Regions from separate parts of the Homo sapiens genome. Here regions 2 and 3 are each linked to region 1. Evidence: fine-mapped expression QTL. A gene starts in region 1. Each other region holds a variant in brackets. All regions are shown on one strand. Distances are from middle to middle. Region 1 holds the start of MDH2 (malate dehydrogenase 2). Region 2 overlaps STYXL1 (serine/threonine/tyrosine interacting like 1). Region 3 overlaps SRRM3 (serine/arginine repetitive matrix 3).

What was found. PIP is the estimated chance that this variant, and not a neighbour inherited with it, causes the effect.
Region 2: its variant is fine-mapped to the expression of MDH2 in skeletal muscle (GTEx, PIP 0.97).
Region 3: its variant is fine-mapped to the expression of MDH2 in skeletal muscle (GTEx, PIP 0.98).

The regions. Positions count from the first base shown.
Region 1 is chr7:76,043,195-76,051,379 of GRCh38, reverse strand. MDH2 (malate dehydrogenase 2) reads right to left here and starts at 3,274. Exons shown (of 9, transcript NM_005918.4): 1 at 3,154-3,274. The coding sequence starts at 3,219. STYXL1 (serine/threonine/tyrosine interacting like 1) reads left to right here and starts at 3,380. Exons shown (of 9, transcript NM_001317785.2): 1 at 3,380-3,718. RefSeq lists enhancers at 2,343-3,124, 3,400-3,479, 3,590-3,679, 3,125-3,907 and a silencer at 2,990-3,149.
Region 2 is chr7:76,008,225-76,016,409 of GRCh38, reverse strand. It overlaps STYXL1 (serine/threonine/tyrosine interacting like 1), which reads left to right. Exons shown (of 9, transcript NM_001317785.2): 5 at 2,523-2,668. Among named protein-coding and RNA genes, the nearest start is that of TMEM120A, 18 kb to the right of the region's middle. RefSeq lists an enhancer at 7,745-7,924. The variant T/C (reference allele first, on the strand shown) is at 3,143.
Region 3 is chr7:76,236,472-76,244,656 of GRCh38, reverse strand. All of the region lies in intron 2 of SRRM3 (serine/arginine repetitive matrix 3), which reads right to left. Among named protein-coding and RNA genes, the nearest start is that of SRRM3, 39 kb to the right of the region's middle. The variant C/T (reference allele first, on the strand shown) is at 3,699.

The DNA of each region.
Region 1 (8,185 bases):
ATTGCACTCCAGCCTGGGCAACAAGAGCGGAACTCCGTCTCAAAAAAAAAAAAAAAAAAAATCCAAAGTCTGGAGACCACTGCACCATGGGCTCAAGCCCATCTTTCTTTCTGCTTTCATCAGCTGCCTTCTCAACAATGTCGCTTGTATGCCCAACAGGCATTTTAAATTGAACATATGAAAAACTGAGATCCTGGCCGGGTGTGGTGGCTCACGTCTATAATCCCAGTACCTTGGGAGGCCAAGACAGGTGGATCACCTGAGGTCAGGAGTTTGAGACCAGCCTGGCCAACATGGCGAAACCCCATCTCTACTGAAAATACAAAAAAAAATTAGTTGGGCGTGGTGGCAGCACCTGTAATCCCAGCTACTCAGGAGGCTGAGGTGAGAGAACCACTTGAACCCAGGAGGCGGAGGCTGCAGTGAGCCGAGATCACGCCACTGTACTCCAGCCTGGGCAACAGAGCGAGACTCTCAGTAAATAAATAAAAACTGAACTCCTGATATCTTCTCCCTGGTTAAACCCACTCTCTTCTATAAGTCTTGCCTATTTCAGCCCAACTCCAAGGCCCAAAACCTTGGTGTCATCCCCGACCCCTTATCTAATCACACATCAGCAAATCCTTCTGGTACCATCAATGAATACCCAGAATTCAATCATTTCTTACCACCTGCACCTAGATAACCACAATGAACTCCTAACCTACCTTTCTCTCACTCCTAAGACCATCTTGTTAAAATGGAAGGAAGAGCAAGTCATTACGCAGCTGAAAACCCTCAACTGGCCGCCCCATTTCTGAGAAAATACCAAAGTTTTACAAGGCCTGTTCTGTTACCTCCACTGCCTTCTCTGGAACTACCCTAGCCTCATTTTCTCAAACCTTCAAGGCATGCCCCATGCTTCTCCAAGGGCTCTCAGCTACATCCTGAGACATATCCCTTACCTGCAATACTCTTTCCATATGATGTGATCTCTGCTTCCTTCAGACTTTACTCAAACATCTCACTCTGCGTGAGGCCTACCCTGGCTGATGTAAAACTGCTACCCTCGGCTGGGAGTGGTGGCTCACGCCTGTAATCCCAGCACTTTGGGAGGCCAAGGAGGGTGGATCACTTAAGGCCAGGAGTTTGAGACCAGCCTGGCCAACATGGTGAAACCCCATCTCTACTAAAACTACAAAAATTACCCAGCTGTCGTAGCCCTTGCCTGTGATTCCCACCTACTCGGGAGGATGAGGCAGGAGGATAGCTTGAGCCCAAGAGTTGGTTGCAGTGAGCCAAGATGGCGCCACTGCACTCCATCCTGGGCAACAGAGTGGGACTCTGTCAGGTCCATCCTGGCCAACATGGTGAAACCCCATCTCTACTAAAAACACAAAAATTAGCTGGGCACGGTGGTGCGCGCCTGTAGTCCCAGCTATTCGGGAGGCTGAGGCAGGAGAATCGCTCCAACCTGGGAGGTGGAGGCTGCAGTGAACCGAGATCACGCCACTGCACTCCAGCCTGTCGACAGGGCGAGGCACTGCATCAAAAAAAGTAAATAAAATTGGTACCCTCTTCCCTAACACAAGCACCCTACAATCCCCATTTTTCTTGCATGTTCATCACTATTTTAAGATACTTTATAATGAGTGGGGCAATAAGTAAAATATCTAGTAATTTCCGTGAGAGCAGGGACTTCTGTGTTTTGTTCACCGCTGTATTTCCAGTACCTAGCTCAATAAATATGTCGGATATCTGAAGGTCCTACCAAAACTCAACCTCTCCCTGGACACCCCTGTCCTCTCTTTGGTTGGCTGCCCCTCCCCCACACCTCATCCCTCCTGTCCTGTTTACTCATTCCCTAAGACCTTCATCGCCTCCACCTGTCCTAAGTTTACTCATTCCCTAAGACCTTCATCGCTTCCACCTGTCCTAAGTTTACTCATTCCTGTCCCATATCAAGTGTCACTTCTCACTTATCTTGGTATCCCCTGCAGCACCCAGCATAGTTGTTGGCAAGCACAGGTACTTAATGTACTTATCTGTATACAGCTGGGCCCCCACTTCACCGCAGCGCAAAAGCATTTGGTACATTCAACTTACAATGGGGTTGCCTGTGGGAACCCATTGCAAGTTGAAAATACACAAAGTTAAACTCGCCTTTTGACTTAGGATATTACCAACTTGCGATGGGTATGGGAAGTAGCCATCAATCCAGGAGCATTTGTATTTATTTTTCAAATGAACTGGATGTACAGGAAACTCGAGAACTTCGATGATAAATTTGGATTCCCCTTTAAAATTACCTCCCTCTTGGGCGTCGTAATTAAAAGGCAATGCGAGCACCTCCTGGGTTCTCAAAATTAGGTTTAATTAGATTCACCTGGTAAAAATGCGGACCCCCCCCCCCCCCCCCGCAGTCTTAAGCTTCTTCAATGAACCCAGACGTCTGTTTTTTATTAGCTTTCTGGTGATTCTGACACACTGCAGAGTTTAAGAACCACCATTCTAGAAGATGGCTAAAAATAGCCTAGGCTCCTAGGCTTAAGTGGTCGCGGGCCAAGTCAAGCACTGTTAAGACACCTGGCGGCAGGCTCAGTCCGCCCACAGCAGGAGAGATCCTCCAAAAAGGTTAAGAGGAAGCCGTCTTCAGGTCAGAAGCGCTGAATTCTAATCCTCTGGCCAAATGACTGTAACCCTGGCCCAGTTCTCTAGCCTCGGTTTGTCCATACTATGGAATTAGGAAGTATACGATTTCTTTTATTCACGCACAACTCACACGGATGCTGCAAGGAGATTAGCTACGTCAAAGCAATGGAACGCTGCAGAAAAAAACGTAAGTTTACTTTCAGATGCAGAGCCCTGGTTTCCCAACCTTGAAGGCGTGCAAGCCAAGAGCAGGTCCTCTGGGAAATCTGGGAGACCTGGGGGAACCCTGACAAATGGACCGGCCCTGGAGCGGGACTACCTCGCCCCCTTTTCCCCGGCTTTCTCCCCCGCACCTCCAGGCCAGTGTCAGGGCCTGCCCCGGGCGCCACAGTCTCCAGCCAGTGCCGGGCATCCCTGCGGTCCAGGCTGGCCTGGAGAGGGTCAGAGCTGCCCGCGAACCGGGGACGCACGTGGCCCGGGCCGGGGGGCCTCCGCCTGCAGGCCGCCCCTCGTCTGGCCTACCTGGGCCGAGGTGCTGAAGCTGCGGCGGAGAGCAGCGCTGGCAGGCCGGGCGAGGGCGGAGAGCATGGCTGGAGCGGGAGGGGCACCGACTGGCAGGCACAGGAGCTGGTGACGGGGAAGTGACTCCAACGACCTCCACACTGCCCAGCGCCTGCTCTCTGGGGCCTCGCGAGAGTGACCGGACTTCCGGTCGCGCTCGCCTCCGGGATCTCGTGAGATCACGGCCACTTCCGGGAGTCGGAAAGGAAAGCTGTGGGACCATCCTGGCAACCCCGGTGTTTGGCTGGGTTCTAGCGTAGCCGTCTGTGTGGCCGGTGGGGGACCTGCGGTCGGAGTGGGAGGGCCAGTCTGCACCCAAGAGGTGGAAGAGGACGGGCTTTAGGCTGGAAGCGCCTTAGAGGAGCCATTTTTCCAGGTGGGGCCCCAGGCAGAGGCTCCGACAGGGAGCCTGGCCATAGTCGCGCAGCCGGGGAGGTGGAGCGCGTCCCAGACCCGAGCCCCCGACCTCAGCCAAACCCATTCCTTCTGCCCTTGGAGGCCAGAGGGGACTCTGAGCTCCGGAAAGGTAGGGTCAGGGAGGCTGAGAGTCCTTAGGCGGGGTGGGAGGAAGGGGCCATCTCCTCAGATCCGGGCCGTCGTTTCCCAAGTTGCAGAGACCCTTGGGTTCAGGTTTAGTGACACCACTGCTGATAATGGCGACCTCCAGCCCTGCAAGCTTTAGAGGACCACTATTCTGTGTTCCAGATGAGCAAATAGGTTGTAGGGACAACAACTTCCGTGGTCATACAGTTCCTGTCTTCTCTCGCCTGCCCGGCAGTGCTCTGACGGTCCCACTGTTTCTGCTTTACGAATAAAGACACTGTGGCTGAGGCCAAGTGGATTTGTAGAGTTTACGCAGACAGAAAGTCGAGTAGAATTCCTTGCTCACAATGAGTTTATTACTTAAATGTATGAATTTATTTATTTTTTTGAGACGGAGTCTCTCTAGCCCAGGCTGGAGTGCAGTGGCGCGATCTTGGCTCACTGCAACCTCTGCCTGTCAGGTTCAAGTGGTTCTCCTGCCTCATTCTCCTGAGTAGCTGGGATTAGCGCACCACTACACCTGGCTAATTTTTTGTATTTTTTTTTTAGTAGAGACGGGGTTTCACCACGTTGGTCAGGCTGGTCTCGAACTCCTGACCTCGTGATCCACCCGCCTCGGCCTCCCAAAGTGCTGAGATTACAGGCGTGAGCCACCGCGCCCGGCCTGATACATATTTTTAAAATTAAACAACACCCCCAGGCAAGGTGGCTCATGCCTGTAATCCCAGCACTCTGGGAGGCTGAGGCGGGCCGATCACTTGAGGCCAGGAGTTCATGACCAGCCTGGCTAACATGGTGAAACCCCATCTCTACTAAAAATACAAAAATTAGCCCAGCGTGGTGGTGTACACCTGTAGCCCCAACTACTCCGGAGGCTGAGGCAGGAGAATCGCTTGAACCCGGGAGGTGGAGGGAGGTTGCAGTGAGCCGAGATAACCCCACTGTACTCCAGCTTGGGCGACGGAGAAAGACTCTGTCTCAAAAAAAAAAAAAAAAAAAGCCGGGTGTGGTGGCTTATGCCTGTAATCCCAGCACTTTGGGAGGTCAAGGCGGGCAGATCACCTGAGGTCAGGAGTTTGAGACCAGACTGGCTAATGTGGCGAAACCCCATCTCTACTAAATATACAAAAATTGGCTGGGCATGGTGGCGTGTGCCTGTAGTCCCAGCTACTCAGGAGGCTGAGGCAGGAGAATCCCTTGAACCCAGGAGGTGGAGGTTGCTGTGAGCCAAGATTGTGCCATTGTACTCCATCCTGGGTGATAAGAGCTAAACTCCGGCTCAAAAGCGCGCGCGCGCGCGCGCGCACACACACACACACACACACACACACACACACACACACACACACACACACACACACACACACACAGCAGATAAGCTGAGACATGCTGGAAGAGTAGGTGTTTCTCAATGGAACATTCAACTCCAGAGGAGGGAAAGATCCCTTGCCTTGGAATCAGAATTCTCAAAGGAGGGGCACTAGGGCCTGAGCATTTAACAATGGGAAATGTTTAGACAGGAAAGGAGGAGAAAAAAGGCCAAATAAAATCCTAGCGGGAAAAAATAAGCATAGGCCAGTATTCAGGGGACAGTGAATAGATCATTTATTTTGGAGTGGGGACATTAGGGCAAGCAGTGTCCTTTGTTTATCTTATCACTGACTGCATCTTCTGGTAATTATTTACTCCTCTGTCTTGTAACTGAGAGCACCTCAGAGCCAGGTATTAAGTCTTGCCAGGTACTAAGTCTTTCTTCTGTTTTTTTTGTCCAACATGCGACTGGGCTGAAAGGGCCTCAGTGAATTTGTGGAGAGTTGAGTGGTTTTAGGTACAGCTGGAAACAGCAGGTTGGGAAAAACTAGATTGTGCCGGTCCCATGAATGTTAGCTGAGAAGTTTGTATTTCATTTCTTGGGAAGCAAGTGTTTATCAAAGGTTGTTTATTTATTTGAGATGGAGCCTCACGCTGTTGCCCAGGCTGCAGTGCAGTGGCGCGATCTCGGCTCACTGCAACCTCCACCTCCGGGTTCACGCAGTTCTCCTGCCTCAGCCTCCCAAGTAGCTGGGATTACAGGTGTGCACCACCACACCTGGCTAATTTTTGTATTTTTAGCAGAGACAGGGATTTGTCATGTTGGCCAGGCTGGTCTAGAACTCCTAACCTCAAGTGATCTGCCCGAGTCAGCCTCTCAAAGTGCTGGGATTATAGGCGTGAGCCACTGCACCTGGCCAATCAGGCTTTTGTGACACTGCCAGAACTGTGTTTGAGGAAGATTAGACTGACCTTGTATGCTAAGAATTCCCAGGAAAAAAAAAATGGAGATTGTTTAGGAATCTATTCAGGGAGATTGTTTAGGAATCTATTTTATGGATGACAAAGGTCTGAATTACGGTGGTGGCCATAGAAATGGAGTGGGTAGGGCCAGTGTGGGAGAAGTCTCATGGGAAGAATGGGTAACAGTCTGTGCTCATCTGGGTTTGAGGAGTGAAAGAAAGAGGTGTGGAAAATACATAAAGAGGGAAGTCGGGTTATACAAAGGAGAGGAGAAAAATAAAGGAGGTTATACCAAAGGAGAGGAGAAAAAATAAAGAGTTCCGTTTTAGATGGGCTTAATTGGGAGTTATGCTGAGTTGTCCATATAGACCTTTCAGTGGTATGGGCCGTGTTCATGCCTGTAATCCCAACACTTTGAGCAGCCAAGGCGGACGATCACTTGAGCTCAGGAATTCAGGACCAGCCTGGGTAACATGGCAAAACCCCATCTCTACAAAAAGTACGAAAATTCTCTGGGCGTGATGGTGTGTGCTTGTAGTCCCAGCTACCCAAGAGGCTGACATGAAACAATCGCTTGAGCTCAGGCGATCGGGGGAGGTCAAGGCTGTAGTGAGCCATGATTGTGCCACTGCATTCTGACATGGGTGACAGAGCAAGATATGTCTCATTTAAGGGGGGAAAAAAGGAACTGTGGGATTGAAACTCAGGCCAGGGCGGAAGTCACCTCTGTAGAGGGGGAGAGTTGAGACCATGAGCAATAAACTGGAATCACAGATTGTCAGGCTCCCTCCCACATCTGGAATTCAGTTTCCTCCACATCCCTCCCAAGTCCTCATCTCCACAGAAGAGGAACTCGCTACCTCCCAAGCCTTCTACTTGGGCCATCCCAAACAACTTGACTGCTAGAAAAGCCTCACATTTGGCCCAGTGCAGTGGCTCATGCCTGTAATTCCACCCCTCTGGAAGGCCAAGGTGGGAGGATCGCTTGAGCCCAGGAGTTCAATACCAGCCTGGGCAACACAGGAGACCCTGTCTACAAATAATAAAAATTAGCCAAGCATGGTGGTATGTGCCAGTGGTCCCAGTTACTCAGGAAGCTAAGGCAGGAGAATTGAGCCTGGGAGTTTGAGGCTGCAGTGAGCTGTGTTTGCACCACTGCACCCCAGTCTGGGTGACAGAATGAGACCTTATCTCAAAGGAAAAAAACATAAAAAGCCTCACACTCAGCTCCTATCTGCCTCTCTCTAAGGAAATACCAAGGTAATTAACAACAGTCTTATTGGCTGCTGTATGAAGCACTGTGTGGTAGGCATTGATTTTACTTGGTGTTTTGCAAGTGAAACTTATATTAAACAAGCAGGGTTTCCACAGTCAAGAAGTAGAATTCAATCATGCAGCAGCTTTCTGTCTTTAAATCTTTGCTTGCCCTTGGATTGTGTCTGGTTACTAGGACAGACTTACTGTCCAGTTCATGTTAATAATCAAAACTAGGAATTTAATTCAAAGGTAAAGCTGCTTCTCTTCCCCTCTCAAGCTTTCTTTGGGCTCCCACATTTGAGGAGGACAGTAGTTGACTTCTGTTTATTTTGTTTCCTCTTCCATCCCACCCCAGCCCAGGCCAACTATGGCTTCTGAGGCATCCTGTGTTGGTGGAGGGGGTTATAAGAGAGTAGAGATGGGGCAAGAAAAGCCCCTTCGACATCTGGCCTTGTTACTGTCTCAGCTTGATGGGAATTTGTAACTGACTCTCCCATGCAGTGCTTCTGGGGGTCTTTCTTACCTCCAGTTCCCATGATCAGGTGGCCATCTCAGTCTTGCTGCTTCAATTCCTCCCTCAGCCCCTGGCTTCTGGAATCCTCCACCACATGCCATTGGTCCATTTTCCCTCTCGGTGGCCCTCTTGGGCAAAGTTCCTTTAAAATGGCTTCTCGGCTGGGTGCGGTGACTCACGCCTGTAATCCCAGCACTTCGGGAGGCTGAGGTGGGTGGATCACCTGAGGTCAGGAGTTTTGAGACCAGCCTGCCCAACATGGTGAAACCCCATCTCTACAAATACAAAAAATTAGTTGGGCACGGTGGCGGGCGCCTGTAATCCCAGCTACTGGAGAGGCTGAGACAGGAGAATTGCTTGAACCCAGGAGGCAGAGGTTGCAGTGAGCCGAGATCATGCCACTGC
Region 2 (8,185 bases), 35 kb after region 1:
TATACGTATATATACACACATACGTATATACGCTATATATGTGCACACATACGTATAGATATACGTGTATATATACACACATATGTATAGATATACGTGTATATATACACATGTATGTATAGATATACATATATACACACATACATATAGATATACGTATATCTATACACACATAATTATATATATGTATCCCTATACATGTACATATGTATAGATATACATATATCTATAAATGTACATATGTATATACTTATATCTATACATGTACATATGTATAGATATATGTGTGTGTATATATATGCGTGTATATGTAGATACATGTGTATCTATATATATGGGAGTTTGTTAAGGAGTATTAACTCGTGTGATCACAAGGTCCCACAATAGGCTGTCTGCAAGCTGAGGAGCAAGGAAGCCAGTGTGAGTCCCAAAGCTGAAGAACTTGGAGTCCAATGTTTGAGGACAGGAAGCATCCAGCAAGGGAGAAAGATGTAGGCTGGGAGGCTAGGCCAGTCTAGTGTTTTCATGTATTTCTGGTTGCTTTATGTTGTAGCTGTACTGGCAGCTGATTAGATGGTGCCCACTCAGATTGAGGGTGGGTCTGCCTCTCCCAGTCCACTGACTCAAATGTTAATCTCCTTTGGCAACACCCTCACAGACACGCCCAGGATCAGTACTTTGCATCCTTCAACCCAATCAAGTTGACACTCAGTATTAACCATCAGAGGTTGTTTGGTTTTTGCTTCTTGATTTCAGTTCCTTATAGATTTTGGATATTGGATCTTTGTTGGATGCATAGCTTGTGGATACTTTCTCCCATTCTGCAGGCTGTTTGTTTACTCTGGTAGTTTTTCTTGCTGTGCAGAAGCACTTTCGTGTCCTTAGGTCCCACTTGTCAATTTTTGTTTTGTTGCAATTGCTTTGGAGGACTTAGCCAAAAATTATTTGCCAAGGCCAATGTCAAGAAGGGTATTCCCTAGATTTTCTTCTAGGATTTCTATAGTTTTCAGGTGTTACATTTAAGTCTTTAATCTATCTTGAGTTGATTTTTGTATATGGTGATAGGGGTCCAGTTTCATTCTTCTGCATATGGATAGCCAGTTATCTTAGTACCATTTATTGACCAATAAGTGGGAGTCCTTTCCCCTTTCCTGTTCTTTGAGACAAGGTCTTGTTCTGTCTCCAAGGCTGTAGTGCAGTGGCACGACCATTGCTCACTACAGCCTCAACCTCCCTGGCTCAGGTGATCCTCCTGCCTCAGCCTCTCTAGTAGCTGGAACTGCAGGTGCCCGCCACCACACTCAACTAATTTTTTGAATTTTATTTGTGGAGGCGGGGTCTTTCCATGTTGCCTAGGTTGGTCTCAAACTCCTGGGCTCAGGCAATTCTCCTGCCTCTGCCTCCCAAGGTTCTGGGATTATAGATGTAAACCACCATCCCCAGCCTCCATTGCTTATTTTTGTCAACTTTGTTGAAGATCAGATGGTTATAGGTGTGTGGCTTTATTTCTGGGTTATCTATTTTGTTCCATTGGTCTATATGTTTTGAATTGCACACTTTAAATGGGTGAATTGTGTGATACACAACATACAGTTGACATATATATGTGGTATAAATATAATATATACATGTATATAATATGTAAACCATATGTATGCATATGAGTGGTTAACGAGCTGGCAGTTTCTGTAAACTCTGAGATATATGTATTGTATGACATCATACAATACATATATCTCAGAGTTTGCAGAAAAGAAGATTAACTTAGGCTGAGCACACCTGTAATCTCAGCACTCTGGGAGGCTGAGGCAGGTAGATTGCTTGAGCTCAGGAGTTCAAGACAAGCCTGGGCAAAAAAGTGAGACACTGTCTCTACAAAACAATACAAAATTTAGCCAGGTGTGGTGGTGCGCACCTATAGTCCCAGCTACTCGGGAGGCTGAGGTGGGAGGATGGTGTGAGCCCAGGAGCTGGAGGTTGCAGTGAGCCGAGATTGTACCACTGCACTCCAGCCAGATGGAGTGAAGCCCAGTCTCAAAAACAAAAACAAAAAAAACCCGGTGGTAAGCTACTTTTAAAATTTTAATATGATGCATCTCTATACTTGCTTCAGCTTCCTAAATAATTGCATTTCAAGCCGGGCATGGTGGCTCACGCCTGTAATCTCAGCACTTTGGGAGGCCGAGGCTGAAGGATCACCTGAGCTGAGGAGTTCAAAACCAGGCTGGCAAACATGGTGAAACCCTGTCTATACTAAAAATAAAAAATTAGCCAGGCATGGTGGGCGCCTGTAGTCCCAGCTACTTGGGAGGCTGAGGCAGGAGAATCGCTTGAACCCAGGAGGCAGAGGTTGCAGTGAGCCGAGATCGCACCACTGCACTCCAGCCTGGGCGACAGAGTGAGACTCTGTCTCAGAAAATAAATAAAATAATTGCATTTCAGAAGAAAGTGGTCATCTATCCCAGCTCTAGACCAATGGCAGATACACAGGAGACATTCATGTCTTTGGTCTCCACTCTCAGATCTTGTGCCTCAAGCAGCCATTGAGTATGGCAGGATCCTGACCCGCCTCACCCACCACCCCGTCTACATCCTGAAAGGGGGCTATGAGCGCTTCTCAGGCACGTACCACTTTCTCCGGACCCAGAAGATCATCTGGATGCCTCAGGTAGGGCCAAATGCTGAGCACAGGCAGGCCCAGACGGGAAGGATGGGCCTAGAAACTGACTTGTGGGTGACTGAGTGGGAGAAACAGGAGGATGGGACAGAGGATATAGAGAAAGTGGAGGAGATTCTGTCTATACTAAAAACACAAAAATTAGCTGGGCGTGGTGGTGCGTGCCCATAGTCGTAGCTACTAGGGAAGCTGAGGCAGAAGAATTGCTTGAACCCAGGAGGCAGAGGTTGCAGTGAGCCAAGATCATGCCACTGTACTCCAGCCTGGATGACAGAGTAAGACTGTCTCAAACAAAAACAAAAACAAAAACAAACAAAAAAAAAACTAGATCTGGACTCCTGGCAGCCCTAAGTTCATGTCTGCAGCCCAGTCTCCCCCATCTCCTCCACTTTTTTTTTTTTTTTTTTGAGACGGAGTCTCGCTCTGTCGCCCAGGCTGGAGTGCAGTGGTGCCATCTTGGCTCAC[T/C]GCAAGCTCTGCCTCCCAGGTTCACGCCATTCTCCTGCCTCGGCCTCCCAAGTAGGTGGGACTACAGGCGCCCACCAGCACGCCCGGCTAATTTTTTGTATTTTTAGTAGAGACAGGGTTTCACCCTGTTAGCCAGGATGGTCTCGATCTCCTGACCTCAAGTGATCCACCTGCCTCGGCTTTCCAAAGTGCTGGGATCACAGGCGTGAGCCATCCTGCCCGGCCACAGTTCTTTATAAGGAACTGATGGCTGTCGGGTTGAAACAGTGAGCAAAGGTGGACCCATTCAGAGGGCAGGCTGGATGGTGGACCGATACCAAGGTCAGAAAGGCAGGGGCATGGCGGCTCGAGACCACCTCTTTTTTCTTGGCTGTCTGATTCCACAAATCCTAGCTGGATCCAGAGGATACAAAAATACACAAAAGTGGGAAGGATTGGTCAGGCACGGTGGCTCACGCCTATAAGCCTAGCACTTGGGGAGGCCAAGGCAGGAGGATTGCTTTAGCTCAGTACTTTGAGACCGGCCTGAGCAATATAGTGAGACCTTGTCTCTACAAAAAAATCAATAAATGGAGCTGGCTGTGGTGGCTCACGCCTATAATCCCAGCACTTTTGGAGGCCAAGCTGGATGGATCACTTGAGCTCAGGAGTTTGAGCCCAGCCTAAGCAACATGGCAAAACCCTGACTACCAAAAATACAGAAATTCACCGGGCATAGTGGCCCACCTGTCTTGTAGTCCCAGTTACTCAGGAGGGTGAGGCAGGAGAATTACTTGAACCCAGGAGGAGGAGGTTGCAGGGAGCCGAGATCACACCACTGCACTCCAGCCTGTGTGACAGAGTGAGACCCTGGCTCAAAAAAATAATTTAGAAAAGAGATGGGTGGATTGCTTGAGCCCAGGAGGTCGAGGCTGCAGTGAGCCGTTGCCATGCCACTGTACTCCAGCCTGGTTGACGAAGCAAGACCCTGTCTCCAAAAAAAACAAAAAGAAAATCAGCCAGGTGTGGCGACTCACACCTGTAGTTTTAGCACTCTGGGAGGCCAAGGCAGGAGGATTGCTTGATCTCAGGAGTTCAAGACCAGCCTGGGCAGTATAGTGAGACCCCCATCTCTATTATAATTCTTTTTTAGTAGAGACAGGGTTTCACCATGTTGGTCAGGCTGGTCTCCAGCTCCTGACCTCAAGTGATCCACCTGCCTCAGCCTCCCAAAGTGCTGGGATTAGAGGCGTGAGCCACTGCACTCAGCCTATTTTTTAATACAAAAAGAGAATCAGATATTAAACCCCTTTGTCCATCACCTAGCTCCAAACATTGTCAACTCATGGTCAGTTTTGTCAAAACAAAACAATTTTGAGATTCCAGTTTCTGCTGATGACTGGTCCTGTCTGTAGGGGAGGCAGTGGCTGGAAGCTGGACTGTGTCAAGGGACGCCCCGGGTATCTGGAGCCCAGAGAAGGGGCACTTGAGCTTCCCAGAGCCAAATCTGACGGAGGAGGAGATTTCGAGGAAGAGAACTGGGTGGAGTTGTCTAAGGCTAGCACCAGACTATGCAGAGATTTGCAGGCAGGGCCTGGTCCCTGGAGAGTGCCGTGTACAGATGTCTGGCTTATTGAAGCGTCTGAACACAATGGAATGTAAACAGAAAGTGGTTTTAACTTTTTCTAACAGTTGCCTTCAGCTGTGTTCCCCTTCCTGCCCTTAGCAACATCGTGAGCAGATTCCATACTTTCTGGCCACTTTTGGTTACAAAAAACTTCAATCGAAATCATAGTATAGAATGACTGGGCAAATGTGACTATTCACAGGATGTTTGACTGTGTTTAGGAATTGTTGCTTTTCGAAGGTTGTAGTGACATTGTTATGGTTATTATAAAGTACAAGTCCTTATCTTTTAGAAATACAGAACAAAATATTTACGGGTGAAATGACGTGATGTCTGGAATTTCCTTTCAAATAATCTGGGGTGAGGTGAGAAGGCAGTGAGGGTATAGAGGAAACAAAATTGGCCAATGAGTTGTTAATGTTTGAAGTTGGGCGATATATACGTTTTAGAGACAGGGTCTCACTCTGTTGCCCAGGCTGGAGTGCAGTGGTGCAATCATAGCTCACTGCAGCCTCCACCTCCTGGGCTTGGTATCCTCCAGCCTCAGCCTCTTGAGTAGGTGGGACTACAGATGCATGCCACCACAGTCAGCTAAGTTTTAAAATTTTTTGCAGATACAGGGTCTTGCTATGTTCCCCAGGCTGGTCCAAAACTCCTGACCTTAAGCAATCCTCCTGCCTTGGCCTCTCAAAGTACTGGAATTATAGGCATGAACCACCACACCTGGCCAACTAGTGTATAGTTTTGAAATAATGTTAAAGGAAGTAAAAAGACAGTCTAGTAGAAGCTAGGGCGGTTTAATGTTCCAACCTCAAATCTGAATCAAGTCTCATCTCTTCCCATGCCCTAGAGCTGGGCAGCCTAGGGTTTGCTGGGGGCACTCAAAGTAGGGAGGGATGGGGGTTAGCTTTAAGGACAGCTGCTCTCTTCCCCTCTTCTGGGCAGAGTACCTTTGGCAGTAGGGCCCAGAGTGGACCTGTCTGTGTGCCTGGCTGCGTGTTAGTGGTGGGAAAGTGCCTGCTCTCTGGCCCCGTCTGGCTGTGTGAGCTGCTGGTAGCCTCTGCTGCTGGGTTTCTCGGGACCCAGCTCAGCCTCACCCTGGCTCCTTCTGGGGCTGAGGATCTCCCAGAGAACGCAGCCAGTGGTGACTCCCTTCAACCCCTGCCAGGCATCTCCTCCAACTTCCTCCCCTTAACTTGGAAGCCCATGACCCGTCCCCTGCCCCGCATGCCCACATTCCTTCACCGGAATCGTAGAAGGCAGGGACTCATGCCTGAGGTCAGACATGTTCCCAGATCCAGGGTATGCATGCCTGGCTCCCAAAGACATCCCTTTCTTCCACTGAGATAACAGCACTGTGAATTTCAGCTCAACAGGTGTACAGTCAGTTAAATAAAGGAAGTAAAGACAATCAGTCTAGTATAAGCCAGGGCAGTTTAATGTTCCAGCCTCAAATCTGAATCAAGTCTTATCTTGATTGGAACTCCTCCTTGCTCCTCCTTGCTCTTGGAGGAGCACCCTGGCTTTGCAGGGTGCAGAGAGATTAATTTCTTCTCTGCAAACCCTACGCTGCTGATAACTCATCACTGCCACCTCCTCATTTCTGAAGCTTTAGTAAGGTGTAATTGACATGATGAACTGCACATATTTAAAAGGCCCGGTATGGTCCGTTTTGACAGTTGCATATTCCTGAAACTTGCCTTTGCTCCTAGTCTAGTCACATTGGGAAGAAGGCGCAGGGTTGTGGCTAGGGTAGCTGTGAGGGTTGGATTGGGTTACTTGTTTGCAGCTGTCTTTAGAATGTAGGTGACTGGCCAGCTGTGGTGGCTTAAGCTTGGAATCCTAGCACTTTGGGAGGTCAAAGAGGAGGTGGAAGGATCACTTGAGTCCAGGAGTTTGAGACTAGCCTGGGCAACATAGTAAGACCTTGTTTACACAAAAATTTTTTTAAAAGGCTGGGCTTGGAGGCTCACGCCTGTAATCCCAGCATTTTGGGAGGCCAAGGCGGGCGGATCACGAGGTCAAGAGATCAAGACCATTCTGGCCAACATGGTGAAACCCCATCTCTACTAAAAATACAAAAATTAGCTGGGTGTGGTGGCACATGCCTGTAATCCCAGTTACTCAGGAGGCTGAGGCAGGAAAATCAATTGAACCCGGGAGGCGGAGGTTGCAGTGAGCTGAGTCACACCACTGCACTCCAGCCTGGGTGACAGAGTGAGACTCCATCTCAAAAAAGAAAAAAGAAGAAAGAAAGATTTAGGAGGTAGCACCGATCAGACATGAGGGCATAGGAGAGAGAGGGGGCTGGGATGATGCCCTGGTTTTAGGCGTGGGTGACGGGGGCTGTGATGTGGTTCATTCTGGGGAACACTCGGGAGGGGGCGGGGTGGGGGAAGAAGGAGGTGGTTTTGGGGGAAGGCAGTGTGCCCAGTTCGGGCATATTCATTTGAGATACTGGTTTCGTTTGCATTGTGTCACTGAGCATTTACACACATTCTACAGTACAGTGTGTTTTTATCCACATCACACCCTCTTCCCAGCCAAACCCACACAACCGCAGAAAAGGAAGCTGGTTTAAAAACAGCAGGAAGAGGGGTTGATAGATTTGCTATGGGATTTTTGTGGGGTTTTTTTTGTTTTGTTTTGTTTTGGTTTTTTTTTGAGATAGCATCTCTGTTGCCCAGGCTGGAGTACAGTGGTACAATCTGGGCTTACTGCAACCTCCACCTCCTGGGTTCAAGTGATTCTCCTGCCTCAGCCTCCAGAGTAGCTGAGATTACAGGCGTGTGCCACCACGCCTAATTTTTATATTTTTAGTAGAGATGGGGTTTCACTATGTTGGCCAGGCTGGTCTTGAACTCCTGACCTCAGGTGATCCACCTGCCTCAGCTTCCCAAAGTGCTGGGATTACAAGCATCAGCCACCATGCCTGGCCTTTTAGCGAGATTTTTAAGTGGAAATTGAAAGGGGGATTTCATTTGGCACCAGCAAGCTGAGCGTCCATCCGGGTTAGGGGCAGCCCACATGCTGGAGTAAATTGGGCCTGCCCGCAGGCAGTGGGGGGTCATGCATCTCCGTGTCACAGGCTGGAGAACTGGCTCAGCTTGGTGTCTGTTCTTTACTAATGGCTTTCGAAGCTGGTAGCTTGGGAAGGATGTGGGCTTGCAGAGGGTTCACTGCCGTGGGGAAGGGAGTGAGATGTGCTGAGTTCAGGTGGCTCTGAAGGACCCACACGCCTGAGGTCCTTAAAATGTTATTTCTGAGTCAGACTTAGAGCCAGGGGACTTTTGGAACTGATTTTGATCTTTGGCAAAGGTCAGCATTTTCTGTGGTGTAATAATGGAGAAAGTGGTCTCTAATCAGAGCCTCATGGAAACATCAAGTTATCCAGTTGGAGTGGATTTCTCTACTGCAGAGCTTCTTTGAGATTTTTT
Region 3 (8,185 bases), 190 kb before region 1:
ATGGCTTGGGGACCAATCGGTTGAGTCAGAGGGATGGGACTTGGGGACCAATTGAATGAGTCAGGAGGTCTGGTTGGGTAAGAAGCATCACCTACTTCTTCTTCTTCTTCAACTTTTTTTTTTTTTTTTTTTTGAGATGGAGTCTTGCTCTGTCGCCCAGGCTAGAGTGCAGTGGCACAATCTCGGCTCACTGCAACCTCTGCCTCCCAGGTTCAAGCAATTCTCCTCCTTAGCTTCCCGGGTAGCTGGGACTACAGGCATCCGCCACCATGCCCAGCTAATTTTTGTAGTTTTAGTAGAGATGGGGTTTCACCATGTTGGCCAGGCTGGTCTCAAACTCCTGACCTCAGATGATCCACCCACCTCGGCCTCCCAAAGTGCTGGGATTACAGGCATGTTCCACTGTGCCTGGTCACCACCTACTTCTTAAGCAGGTGTCCCCTGACCCCCAGCTAGGGTCGGAGTCTGTGTGGGTTCAGCCTGCTGTGTCGCTCACCGTGGGGAGGGCTGGGTCCTGGCCTGGTTAGGGGTGGGGGGCTTTTCTTCTAACCCCCCATCCCCTCGTGGCTCAGGCCACCCTGCACTGCTGCCACCAACCTAGCTCCACCAAGTTCAGGGCCCTGGCTCCTCAGTGTCCACCTCAGTCCCTGTGTGGCCCTCAGACTCGGGCATTCACCTGGAGGTCCCTTGTCTGGGCATGTGAGTTGGGCAGTGCAGAGCCTGGCACCCAGGAAGAAAGGGTGGTGCCCCACCCCCCCAGCAGAGGCAGAGAGCAATTGCTCCCACATCACCTTCTCTTGCAGAGACTAGCTTGTCACTGTCACCAGCACAGAGACAAACACAGCACAGGCCCTCCAACACTGCTTAGCCCCTAATTTATAGGCCCCACAGAGGGAGACAGAGACTGGCATGGGACCCTGGGCCAGGTGGGTGGGAAGAGATGGCCTAAGGGTGAGGGTGGGCCATTCCCCAGCTGCTTGTGGGGGGCTGGCAGGGGGTTTCAGGCCAGGATCCAAGCCCCCTTTCCTGGGGGTCTTTGGCACATGGAAGGCTGGGAAATGGGCACAAATGGGTTTCAGGGAGACCTGCAGCGGCATATATGCAGGGCTGGGGGTCGTCCTGGAGTCAGTGGGCTGGAGGCAAGTTGATGAACTCCAGCACCTGTCTGTTGAGGATGGGCTGCTGGATTGAACCAACTCAGAGGCTTGGGGAGGGTCCCTCTGTGCCCCAGGGTATCTTGTTGGGAGAAGCTGGGGACACAAGGATGACACCTGGTGATTGGTCTCATGTGACCACCACCTCTGAGTGTCCTTTCCCCTCTTATCTCTTGGAATCAATCTTCTCAGCTGAGCCACTTGGGACAGTGATGACGGGGAGAGACAGAGGAGCCCAACAGTCCTGCTTTTGAATCCTGGCACCTCCCACTTCCCAGTTCTGTGGCCTTGGGCAAGTCCATGTGCTTCTCCCAGCCTTAGCTTCTAATCTGTGAAATGGGAACAGGACCCACCTTTCAAGGTTGTCATCTGGATATTAGTCCCCTCCCAATCTCATGTTGAAATGTGATCCTCAGTGTTGGAGGTGGGGTCTGGTGGGAGGTGTTTGGGTCATGGGGGTGGATCCCTCAAGAATGGCTTGGTGCCCTCCCCATGGCCATGAGTGAGTTCTCACTCTATTACAGAGGTTGCTGATACCTCAGGTTGGGGTACCACTCTGTGGCCTATTAGGAACCAGGCTGCACAGCAGGAGGTGAGGAGCAGGCAAGGGGGCAAAGCTTCACCTGTATTTATAGCTGCTCCCTATCACTCCCATTACCACCTGAGCTCCACCTCCTATCAGATCAGTGGTGGCATTAGATTCTCATAGGAGTGGGAACCCTGTTGTGAACTGCGCATGCGAGGGATGTAGGTTGCACGCTCCTTGTGAGAATCTAATGCCTGATGATCTGTCACTGTCTCCCATCACCCCAGATGGGACTGTCTAGCTGCAGGAAAACAAGCTCAGGGCTCCCACGGACTCTACATGATGGTGAGTTGTAGAATTATTTCATTACATAATACAGTCTAATAATAATAGAAATAAAGTGCACAATAAATGCAATGTGCTTGAATCATCCTGAAACCATCCCCCCACCACCCCGCCTAGTCCATGGAAAAATTTTCTTTTTTTTTTGGGAAACAGAGTTTCATTCCTGTTGCTCAGGCTGGAGTGCAAAGGTGCAATCTCGGCTCACCACAACCTCCATCTCCCCGGTTCAAGCGATTCTCCTGCCTCAGCCTCCCAAGCAGCTGGGACTACAGGCATGCGCCCCCACGCCCAGCTAATTTTTGTATTTTTACTAGAAATGGAGTTTCTCCATGTTGGTCAGGCTGGTCTCGAACTCCCGACCTCAGGTGATCCACCCACCTCAGCCTCCCAAAGTGCTGGGATTACAGGCGTGAGCCACCTCGCCCAGCCAGAAAAATTTTCTTCCACAAAACTGGTATCTGGTGCTGAAAAGGTCGGAGACTGCTGCTCTATTAGTTTAGGAAAGAGCTGATTGTTTTAAGGAGTCTGGGGTGTCTCTCCTCTCCCTCTTTCTCCCTCTGGTGCCATGTGAGACATGCTGGCTCCCCTTCTTTTCCATCATGACTAAAAGCTTCCTGAGGCCTCACCAGAAGCCAATTGGATGCCAGCGCCATGCTTCTGTACAAGCCTCTAGAACCGTGAGCCAAGTAAACTTATTTTCTTTATAAGTTACCTAGCCTCAAGTTTTCCTTTAGAGCAATGCAAAGTGGGCTAACACAGACGTGATGTATTTACATCACTTTGCACAGTGCCTGGCATATAGTAGGTGCTCAATGAATGGTAGCAACTGGCCAGACACAGTGGCTCATGCCTGTAATCCCAGCACTTTGGGAGGCCAAGGTGGGTGGATCACTTGAAGTCAGGAGTTTGACCCCAGCCTGGCAAACATGATAAAACCTTGTGTCTGCTAAAAATACAGAAATCAGCTGGGCGTGGTGGTGCGTGCCTGTAGTCCCAGCTACTCGGGAGGCCAAGGCAGGAGAATCACTTGAACCCAGGAGACAGAGGTTGCAGTGAGCTGAGATTGCGCCATTGCACTCCAGCCTGGGCAATGGAGTGAGACTCTGTCTCAAAAATAAATAAATAAGTAAATAAATAAATAGTAGCAACTGAAGCTTATCTGTCCCAGAGCAGTGGGGACAGAGTGTACAGTCATCCCAGGCTCCCTGCCCTTTTCCATCTGAGACCCCTGCCAGGTTGGCATGGCACCAGCTCCGAGAATTGCCTGGGCCTCTTCTCTGTCTGTTCTGCCAGGAGGCAAAGGCTGGGATAAAGGGGGAGGCTGCTACCCAAACCACTTGCTCCCTGTGGAGGTGGCAGAGCCGGCCAGCCTAGGGCCATGCAGGAAGGCTGGCTAGCATGGCCAAAGCTTCAAACTCAAAGTCAAGGGTTTCTAGGCCGGGCACAGTGGCTTATGCCTGCAATCTCAGTACTTTGGGAGGCCGAGGCGGGCAGATCACTTGAGGTCAGGAGTTTGAGACCAGCCTGGCCAACATGGTGAAACCCCATCTCTACTAAAAATACAAAATTAGCTGGGCATGGTGGCATACACCTGTAATCCCAGCTACTTGGCAGGCTGAGGCAGGACGAATCGCTTGAACCTGGGAGGCGGAGGTTGCAGTGAGCCAAGATGG[C/T]GCCATTGCACTCCAGCCTGGGTGACAGAGGGAGACTCTGTCTTGAAAAAAACAAAAAACCAAAAAAACAACGTCAAGGGCTTGTGTGTGGGTGGGGAAGGGGGAATAGGGGGCAGTGATGTCTGTCCCAGGGTCCCCAGCCTCTTGGCCCACGTGTTCCCCCAGCCAGTCTGGCTCCCTTAGTCCTCATGCCACTCTATGGGCCATAAGGGAAGGGCATGCCAAATGCATTGTGGCTTTGGGGATTTCCTGGGTCGCTCTCTGGGACAGGAGTAGGGTGAGGGGACACTGAATTTTAAGAGTTCCTCAGAGTGAAAAATGTTTTTTTTTTTTTTTTTTGAGATGGAGTCTCGCTCTGTTGCCCAGGCTGGAGTGCAGTGGCGCAATCTCGGCTCACTGCAAGCTCCGCCTCCCGGGTTCACGCCATTCTGCTGCCTCAGCCTCCTGAGTAGCTGGGACTACAGGCACCTGCCACCACACCCGGCTAATTTTTTGTATTATTAGTAGAGAAGGGGTTTCACCGTGTTAGCCAGGATGGCCTCGATCTCCTGACCTCGTGATCTGCTCGCCTCGGCCTCCCAAAGTGCTGGGATTACAGGCATGAGCCAATGCACCCGGCCTATTTTTAATTTTTAAAAGTAGAAATGGAGTCTTGCTATGTTACACAGGCTGGTCTCAAACTCTTGGCCTCAAGCAATTCTCTCACGTCAGCCTCCCAAAGTGCTGGGATTACAGGAGTGTGCCACTATGACCAGCTAATTATTATTATTATTATTATTGTTATTATTATTTGAGACAGAGTTTCACTCTTGTTGCCCAGGCTGGATTGCAATGGCGTGATCTCAGCTCACTACAATCTCCACCTCCTGGGTTCAAGCGATTCTCCTGCCTCAGCCTCCTGAGTAGCTGGAATTACAGGCGTCCACCACCACACCTGGCTAATTGTTTTGTATTTTTAGTAGAGATGGGGTTTCATCATGTTGGCCAGGCTGGTCTCGAACTCCTGACCTCAGGTGATCCACCTACCTTGGCCTCCCAAAGTGCTGGGATTACAGGCATGAGCCACCACGCCCAGCAATTTTTTATCTTTTGGTACAGACAGGGTCTCCCTATGTTGCCCAGGCCTCCTGGCCTTAAGAAAACCTTCTGCCTTGGCCTGCCAAAGTACTGGGATTACAGGCATGAATTCCTACATTAGGCCAGACAGTGACCTTTTGTTTTGTTTTGTTTTTGTTTTTGTTTTTGTTTTTTGTTTTTAGATGGGGTCTTGCTCTGCCACCCAGTCTGGAGTGCAGTGGTGCAATCATAGCTCGCTGCAGCCTCGACTTCTCAGGCTTAAGTAATCCTCTCACCTCAGCCTTCTGAGTAGCTGGGACCACAGGCATGTGCCACCACACCTGGCTAGTTAAAAAAATTTTTTTTTGTAGGTGGATTGGCAGGGGGCTCACTATGTTGCCATGCTGGTCTCAAACTCCTGGGCTCAAGTGCTCCCTCCTCAGCCTCCCAGAGTGCTGGGATTATAGGCATGAGCCACAGCGGCTGGAATGGTAGCCTTTTGATTCCCATTTTATAGATGAGCAAACAGAACAGGGAGAGGGGAGGGAGGGCTCAAAACTCCAAGCCTAGGCTGGGTGCGGTGGTTCACACCTGTAATCCCAGCACTTTGGGAGGCCGAGGTGGGTGGATCATCTGAGGTCAGGAGTTCGAGACCAGCCTGGCCAACATGGTGAAACCCCGTTTCTACTAAAAATACAAAGAATTAGCTGGGTGTGGTGGCGTGCTCCTATAGTCCCAGCTACTCGGAAGGCTGAGGCAGGAGAATGGCTTGAACCTGGGAGGTGGAGGTTGCAGTAAGCCGAGATCGTGCCATTTCACTCCAGCCTGGGCAACAAGAGTGAAACTCCGCCTAAGGGAAAAACAAACAAAGCTCCAAGACTAGCTAGGGATGGAGCTGTGCTCTGTCGCCTCACCCAAGTCCTTACAAGAAGAGGCATGGCGTCTGGGCATGGTGGCTCATGCCTGTAATCCCAGCATTTTGGGAGGCTAAGGCAGGTGGCTTACTTGAGGTCAGGAGTTCAAGACCAGCCTGGCCAACATGGTGAAACCCCGTCTCTACTAAAAAGTACAAAAATTAGCCAGGTGTGGTGGCATGTGCCTGTAATCCCATCTACTCAGGAGGCTGAGGCAGGAGAATCACTTGAACCCAGGAGGCAGAGGTTGCAGTGAGCAGAGAACATGCCACTGCACTCCAGCCTGGGTGACACAGCGAGAATCCATCTCAAACGAAACAAACAAACTAAAAAAGAGGCATGGCAAGAAGATAAACAGGGTGGCAGGGAGGATGCTGGGGGCTGGGGTGGGAGCATCTCGTCAGAAAGGCTGGAGGCTCCGTCCCGCCCCGCGGTGATTGCAGACTGCAAGCCAAGGCTGTCTGGGAAGGTGACTCCAAGTACGCCATCAATCACCAGTGGATTAGCCAGCCAGCCATCAATATTAAGGAAAAGGATTGCTTTTTAATGAGGCCAAAGAGTGTGTGTTCCTGTGACTGATGTGAATATTTGTCAAATGCCCGAGAACCCGGTAAATAAACGGGACTGAACCAGTGTTTCTAGAAATGGATATTAATGACTCGATTTGATAAAAGAGCAGGGGTGCCTGGTGTTTGCTGGCACTTTGTGAGGACTGGCTGGGGGCTGGGCAGTCCCATGTGTGTCTTCAACGGAGGACTCTCAGAACAGCTCCAGAACACAGGTGCCCCTATTTTCCAGGTGAGTAAACCGTGGCTTGTTCAAGGTCAAGATAGGGCTGGAAGCCTGGATTTGGGAGTCTCAGAATGCCTGTCCCTGCCATGATCAAATGCCCTGCTGAGGATGGGGAGGGCAGGGGGAGGGCCATTCAAGAGCTGGTTTTTCAGAGGTGGCTCCAGGATAAGGACCACCTCAAGTGAGAGCTTGGGTGGGGGAAGGGACCCTGACTGAGCAAGTGGGGACATAGTGGGTGCTTCCCAGGGAAGCAAGGATCCTTGATGCTGGGGGTCTTACACCCAGGACGTGGCCAAATGCCATCACCTTTTGCTTGGGGAGGGGCTCAGTGAGGGAAGGTTCCTTGAAAGGGTGAAGGTCTTTGAGGGGGAGGGCTTTCAGGATGGGAAAGTACAGAGAAGAGGAGGGGACTTAGTGAAGGGAGAGGGGCTGAGGATGGGGATGGGTTCATCAAGGAGGTGGAGTTCTGGGAGGAGGAGGAGCAGGAAAGTGCAGGGAACACCTTGTCTGTCCCTGTCAACCCTCTTGTCCTCTGCCCACACTCCCCTCCCTCCTTGACTCTCCAGACAGAATTTCGCAGAATTTGCAGGTTTTGTTTGTGTGTTTGTTTTTGTTTTGTTTTGAGATGGAGTCTCCCTCCGTTGCTCAGGCTGAAGTGCAGTGGCGCAATCTTGGCTCACTGCAACCTCTGCTTCGCGGGTTCAAGCGATTCTCCTGCTTCAGCCTCCCGAGTAGCTGGGACTACAGGCGCTCGTCACCATGCCTGGCTAATTTATTTTTATTTTTATTTTGAGACGGAGTCTTGCTCTGTCACCCAGGCTGGAGTGCAGTGGCACAATCTCAGCTCAGTGCAACCTCCGCCTCCGGGTTCAAGCGATTCTCCTGCCTCAGCCTCCTGAGCAGCTGGGACTAGAGGTGCATGCCACCATGCCCGGCTAATTTTTTGTATTTTTAGTAGCGATGGGGTTTCACTGTGTTTGCCAGGATGATCTCGATCTCCTGACCTCACGATCTGCCCGCCTTGTCCTCCCATAGTGCTGTGATTGCAGGCGTGAGCCACCGCACCTGGCCTTTTAAATTTTTTTGTATTACTAGTAGAGATGGGGTTTCACCATGTTGGCAAGGCTGGTCTCGATCTCCTGACCTCAAGCGATCTGCCCACTTCGGCCTCCCAAAGTGCCGGGAGCCACGTGAGCTGGTACAGCCGTGAGCCACCGAATCTGGCTGGATTTGCCGGTTTAATTCACGACCTGAGGTTCTCACTGTAGGAGATGCTCCCCACCTCGCCCCTCCTTGCCCCTGCCCCTTGAGATCTCATTCCCTCTTCCGGTACCCACAGCTCATCAACATGTTCCCTTGCCAGCTGGAACCTCCTTTGTGTGTGTCCTCAGCATCCTGCCATCCATCCATCCATCCCTCTCTGCAAGGGGCCTCCTCCCCGCTACCTGGTCCTCTGGGTGAGGTGAGCATCAGGTCCCCATTACCCCTTCTTCTCCCTACAAGCAGCCTTGCCTGGCAGCCAGCAGGGCTCTTGATCCTGGCTCCGCCTTGGCCCCCCGCCTTCCGGATGGCCTTCAGCAACTCGCTGTCTCTGCCTAAGCCTGGGGGTCTTCCTAAGCTCCTCAGAGATGGTGGCCCCTGTCTAAGGGAGCCCAGGAGGCCTGGGGTGGACAAAGGTGTGGCTTGGAAGGACTGAAGGACACAGGCTGTGTCTGGCCCCATGTG